Regions from separate parts of the Homo sapiens genome. Here region 2 is linked to region 1. The links come from fine-mapping of genetic effects on gene expression. A gene starts in region 1. The other region holds a variant in brackets. All regions are shown on one strand. Distances are between the middles of the regions.

Region 1 (2,918 bases):
TGCCCATCATCTTGAGGGTTTTTCCTCCACAATCCACTCTTAATGTCTCATTTCCGCATGAAGACTCAACTTTCATGTCCATCAGAAAGTGTTCTCTAATCCCCAGTCTAGAAGCAACCTTCCTTTCTTCTGAACATCCATGGAAATTTGTTCATACTTCTTTTAGAATGTTTTTTACGACATTCCTAGAACTGTGGTTATTTTTATACTCTTCACATCTTCCTACTATATTATCAACCTAAAGACAGGATTTGTGGCTCATCCACTCTTAGACTCCATAATACTTTATACTCCAATAAAAAACAGATGTAGCTAAGGAAATACTGTGCTAATGTTTGTTGAAGTTAGTGCTAAAAAAAAGTCATATGAATGGATGCTTGGAACTTCCCTGTGATCCTGCACACATTGATTCTTATGGATATATATTTTTTCTGCATTTCTGGAACACAAATGTTCTAAATGCATACATACTTCATCCATCCATCCATTCATTCATTATTTAATACAAACATATTGAATGCCCGCCATATGCAAGGTATCCACAGGATAGGGAGGGTGCTGGCTCTGGCTTTATGCAATGTACGCACTCATTGATCAATGTTTATGTCATTTTGTTTCCCTTCTTTCCAGACAAAGGGAAGCAAAGACTCACTGCACCTCATTACTGTCAGCAGAGAGCAATGTGTAATTGGAATGACCTTTGTATAAGTGCTGACCTATGGGGTCAGAATAAGCCTTATAATGTACAGAACCAACTTATGTGCAATTTTAACATCGACAGAGAATATTGGCCTTTAAGAAATTCATCTCATATTTATTGTTTGGAGATTTTACTTTCAGAAGATATCAGTTACATTTCCCCTCTTTTTTTCTCTTTTCTGCAATTATTTTCCTGGCATTCATTCAATAAAGAGCTTCAAGTCACTTTTTTAGACTGAAATAAACTTTGATGAAAATTGAAAATCAATGCTTTCCTTCTAATGACGTTAAGAGAAAAGCCTCCAATTTTGCAATTATAATCAATATATAAAGGGGAAGTGGCCACAAATATGCTGCACATCTTAAGAAGCCAAGTGGGTTTGGTTACTTTAATTTTTAAATAATCAGGACATTTAAAAAGTTGCTGTTTATAAAATACTTTTTAAAAATGTCATCACACGCACTATGAGTGCACTCAGTCTTGATGTCTCGCTAAAGCATTAGCTGTCTAGCTCCTTCTCCTCCCAGAGCCTTTATCCTCATATTGGGTCTGGGGACACACATGCCGTCTCTTGATTCCTAAGGATCCATTACCCATTTCTCTGCACAGATCTTCGGGTATCCAACCTATCTGTGCCTCCTTCAGCCAGGAGCCTCCGGATCTTTCCAGACTTCTTTGCAATACTGCCTCATGCACTGAATCCATTTCTCGCATAGCCTGGCGCTTGGCAGGCAGGCTGGCGTTCCCTGGCTCTGCCTTCCCCATCTCCCTGTCTTTTCTCCCACGGCCCATCTGCCCCTCCTTTCCTCCACCCCCTTCTCCTCTCTGCTCCCCTTTATTTCCACTCCCCACCCGCGTGGCTTTGCTCTCCCTCTCCCCCCTCAGCTCGTCTGTATTTGGAGCTCCGGAAGCTGCCGGCGACTCTCCCCTGGAGCAGCGTGACTGACACCGGCTCCTATTCAGCTGGGAGGAGGGAGAGGGGAGGAGAAGGGGAGGGCCGCGGGAGGAGGGTACGAGTGGCCGACCACGGATTTGCATTGCCGAGGACGGGACCCCAGGGCAGCGAAGCAGGTAATCCTGCAGCGGTCGGGGCCCGGCGAGGCGGGGAGGGGTCGGGGTGCAGGTGCGGGGGGCGCCTGGCGGCGGGCGCTGGCAAGTTGAGCCCGATGGGTGGGGTAGGGAAGCGGCCGGGACGCTGCGGCTGTGGCAGCAGCGCGAGGGGAATAAAGGCGGCGCGGGCGCGGGGGCCGGGGCGCGGCGACCCGGGCGCGGGGCGCGGGCGCGGGCGGACTCCCATCTGGGTCAGCGGAGCGGCGCGCCCTGCCCCCGCCTCCCCAGCTCCGGCGTCCTGGCCGCTCGGAAGGCGGGGTGCGGGCAGGAGCTGCCCGGGGTTGGCGGGCGGCCGCGGCCTCCCCACCCCAGCGCCGCCGCCCGCCCGGCCGCTCTAACTTTGGGGGGTCTCGTCCACCGGGCTGTGAGTCTTCCAGGGGGGTGGGGGTGGGAGTCATTGCGCCGGCTCTGACCAGAGCCACCTCGATCAGAAAGTGCTGGAAAGAAACAGACCTGGCTTCCCCTCTGCAGAACCTGACTTGAGGCGATGAGTCACTTCTAAAAAATGCAGAGGCAACTGAGACTGGGGGAACGGCTCGGAAAAACGGCACCCGCCGCTGGCTCTCTGACTGCTTTGGGTAGAGGGGTGTTCGTGGAAGTAGCCGCCGTATCATCACTTTTAGGGCCAAAAATCAACCTGCAGATGGCCTTTTCTTTATTCTCATCAGAGTGGTGTTCGCTGCAAGTTGTAGCAATATTTGAATGGATGCATTCTTAAAAATGAGTATGTATGGGTGACTGCATTTAGGAAGTTGAACCGGGACTAGGTCCAAACAGCCAGAGTGGAGATGAACACTTGGTAAAAACATCTAGGACCTTTGGTTTTATAGTTATGGAAATGCAGAAGCTTCTGGGACTTGAGCACTGTAGTTTACTGAGTACTCCTATTTCCTTACTGCTTCTGTAGATTTCATTGAAGCTATGTTCCTTAGAATTCTTGGTAAACTATCTAAGCCCACTTAGTGTAAAATTACAACGGTAGAGTGAACTTTAGAGAATTGGATTTATAGTTACTAGAGTCTAATTAGACTGCAAGCCTCTTGAAAGCAAGGATGGGTTGTTTGGTAGTTCCTACGGCACCAAACAGTATTTGGCTCACAGCATGTAA
Region 2 (2,918 bases), 32 kb before region 1:
AAAATAGAATTGTATACCTGAAGACGATCGGATTCTTGTGTCCAACCTCACTCTCAATCTAGTGGGGACTCATTCTACTCAATCTACTCTGCACTCATTCACATTTCTACCTTTGCCACAATTATTCTAGGGTACCTAGTGTCAGGATGACTGATACCATTTGGGATACTGATAATAGTGGTGTAGCAATTCCTCTACAACACTTATATACCCTGACAGTAATTTTTGGTACTGTTCAGGAAATAAAAGTCCTCACCTCCTAGGCAGTAAGGACTGGAGCTGTAGAAACATTTTCTGCCCTGGACCTTACCCCACAGTGAAGGCCTTTACTTTGCCCTATACCAGCCACTAATGTCAATGGGAGCTTTTCTGCCAAAGAGTTTCTTCTATGTAGCCCTGGCTCCAAAGTACTGTGCCAAGAATTTATTCTTGTTTTGTTTTGTTTTGTTTTTGAGACAGAGTTTCACTCTCACCCAGACTGAAGTGCAGTGGTGTGATCTTGTCTCACTGCAAGCTCCGCCTCTCAGGTTCAAGTGATTCTCCTGCCTCAGCCTCCTAAGTAGCTGGGACTACAGGTGCCCGCCACCACGCCCAGCTAATTTTTTGTACTTTTTAGTAGAGACGGGGTTTCACTGTGTTAGCCAGGATGGTCTTGATCTCCTGACCTCGTGATCCGCCTGCATTGGCCTCCCATAGTGCTGAGATTACAGGCGTGAGCCACTGTGCACAGCCAAGTATATTCTTAACCCCTCCATCAGATTACTCATGCCAATATTTTCACAGCTTAATTTTTTTAAGCCATAAAAATTGCTACTGGCTACCTTGATTTTGTTGTTGTTGGTGTTGGTGGTGGTGGTGGTTGTGGTGGTGTTATGTTAGGGAGAAAAATGACATGCAAGTGAAAAAGCAAATGGATCCATTGCAGCCTTCATGTTGAGTATGAAATGGGGGAAATTTGTTTCTAGGTGTGTAATGTAGTCAACTCTAAAAATTAATGCAAGTGGTCAGAAGTACGCTAGTAGTTATTTAAGTACTCTCCAGAAAAAAAAATAACTGATTTGCAACCTTGGTGCCCATCAACAGAGGATTAGATAAAGAAAATGTACATATACATCACGGAATACTAAGCAACCGTAAGCAAGAATGAAATCATGCCCTTTACAGCAATATGGATGCAGCTGAAGGCCATTACCCTAAGCAAATTAACACAGGAACAGAAACCAAATACCACATGTTCTCACTCGTAAGTGAGAGTTGAACACTGGGCATACACAGACACAGAGATGGGAACAACAGACACTGGGGACTACTAGACAGGGAGGGAGGGAAGTGGGGACTGAAAAACTACCTACTGGGTACTATGCTCACTCCCTAGGTGATGGGATCAGTCGTGCCTCAAACATCAGCATCACTCAATGTACCAGTGTAACAAACATGCACGTGTACCACTTGAATCTAAAATAAAATTTGCCATTTTTAAAAACTAAGAAAATAAGTGATTTGTAACA[T/C]TTTCCAATTTCTGTGGTAAAAATACTTCCACGGTGGTCAATTTCAAGCTACTAAAATGAACATCGTTGAACTTGGGGTTGAGAAGAGACATGCTAATAGGCCCTTATGAGTCAAGTGAGCCCCCTCAGTTGGAAGTGGGGGCACCAATTTTGGCCGGTACTTAGGGGAAAAAATGCCTATGACATTTGACTCCTGGAGTGAATCATTTTTCATAAAAGATTCTGTAGAGTTATTTAAGGCTGGTTTGGACCTGGCACATTAAAATAAAGCAGTATTTGTTTATTTTTCCTGTCTTCTTGCCAACTATTTTGATCAGCTGTCCAAATTTACTTTCTTTCTAAAAAGTATCTTAAGAATGAGAATTGTATCTATTCTAATATTTATCTTGAAGTGCTTCCCATCATTGTGAAGTTTAATCTGTATTTTTATATCAGGAAGAAACTTTAATAACAAAGCCATGTGGTTGTAAGAAGAAATATAATTTTATATCTTTTTTTTATTTTTTGAGACGGAGTCTTGCTCTTTCACCCAGGCTGGAGTGCAAAATGGCATGATCTAGGCTCACTGCAACCTCCACCTCCCAGGTTCATGCCATTCTCCTGCCTCAGCCTCCCGAGTAGCTGGGATTACAGGCCTGCGCCACCACGTCCCACTAGTTTTTGTCTTTTTAGTAGAGACAGGGTTTCACCATGTTGGTCAGGCTGGTCTCAAACTCCTACCCTCAGGTGATTTGCCCACCTCAGCCTCCCAAAGTGCTGGGATTACAGGTGTGAGCCACCGTGCCCGGCCAATTTTGACTTTAGAATTATTCAAATACCAGTGATACTCCTTCCTCCGTAAATACACACATAGTTTGATCCCATTTAATATAATGACATCTGTTGTTTAAGGTTGATAATAATTTGGAGGTAAAGAAAAGAGTGGCAAAATCTCTTGGCTCAATATTCCATTCCCAACCCCTTCTTCCTTGCCTTCCTGAAAAGAAGCTGGAAAATTAAATTTTCCAAGAATCCTCTGTAGCTAGACTGGACAATTCCATGTTTAACAGGCCTGTCCAATACCATGCAAGTTGAAGCCTACTTAGGGATTATGAGAATGTTTTCCTGGCAAAAAGGAACCGATACAACTGTCAGCATCTTCTCTTTACCTTCTCCTTTTTTTCTGAGTTCAATGTGAGGATAATGCCTAGATCAGTGTCAGCTTAGATCATGGGGCAACTAGCATGATGATAAAAGCTAACACCATAAGATGGCAAATTAGAAAGAGAGATTAGTTGAATCCCGATAACACTGTCAAATCATTGACCATAATAGAGTGTCTACATCTAGACATTTCATTATGTGAAAAAACACCCCTCTTTCCCCTATGTTTTAAACTTTCATTGAAGTATAATTTTTATTTATTTATTT

The links. PIP is the estimated chance that this variant, and not a neighbour inherited with it, causes the effect.
Region 2: its variant is the best candidate, but not a certain one, in a credible set for the expression of CAP2 in tibial nerve (GTEx, PIP 0.52).

What each region holds. Positions count from the first base shown.
Region 1 is chr6:17,391,976-17,394,893 of GRCh38, forward strand. It overlaps CAP2 (cyclase associated actin cytoskeleton regulatory protein 2), which reads left to right and starts at 1,620. Exons shown (of 13, transcript NM_006366.3): 1 at 1,620-1,771.
Region 2 is chr6:17,359,534-17,362,451 of GRCh38, forward strand. No RefSeq gene overlaps it. Among named protein-coding and RNA genes, the nearest start is that of CAP2, 33 kb to the right of the region's middle. The variant T/C (reference allele first, on the strand shown) is at 1,509.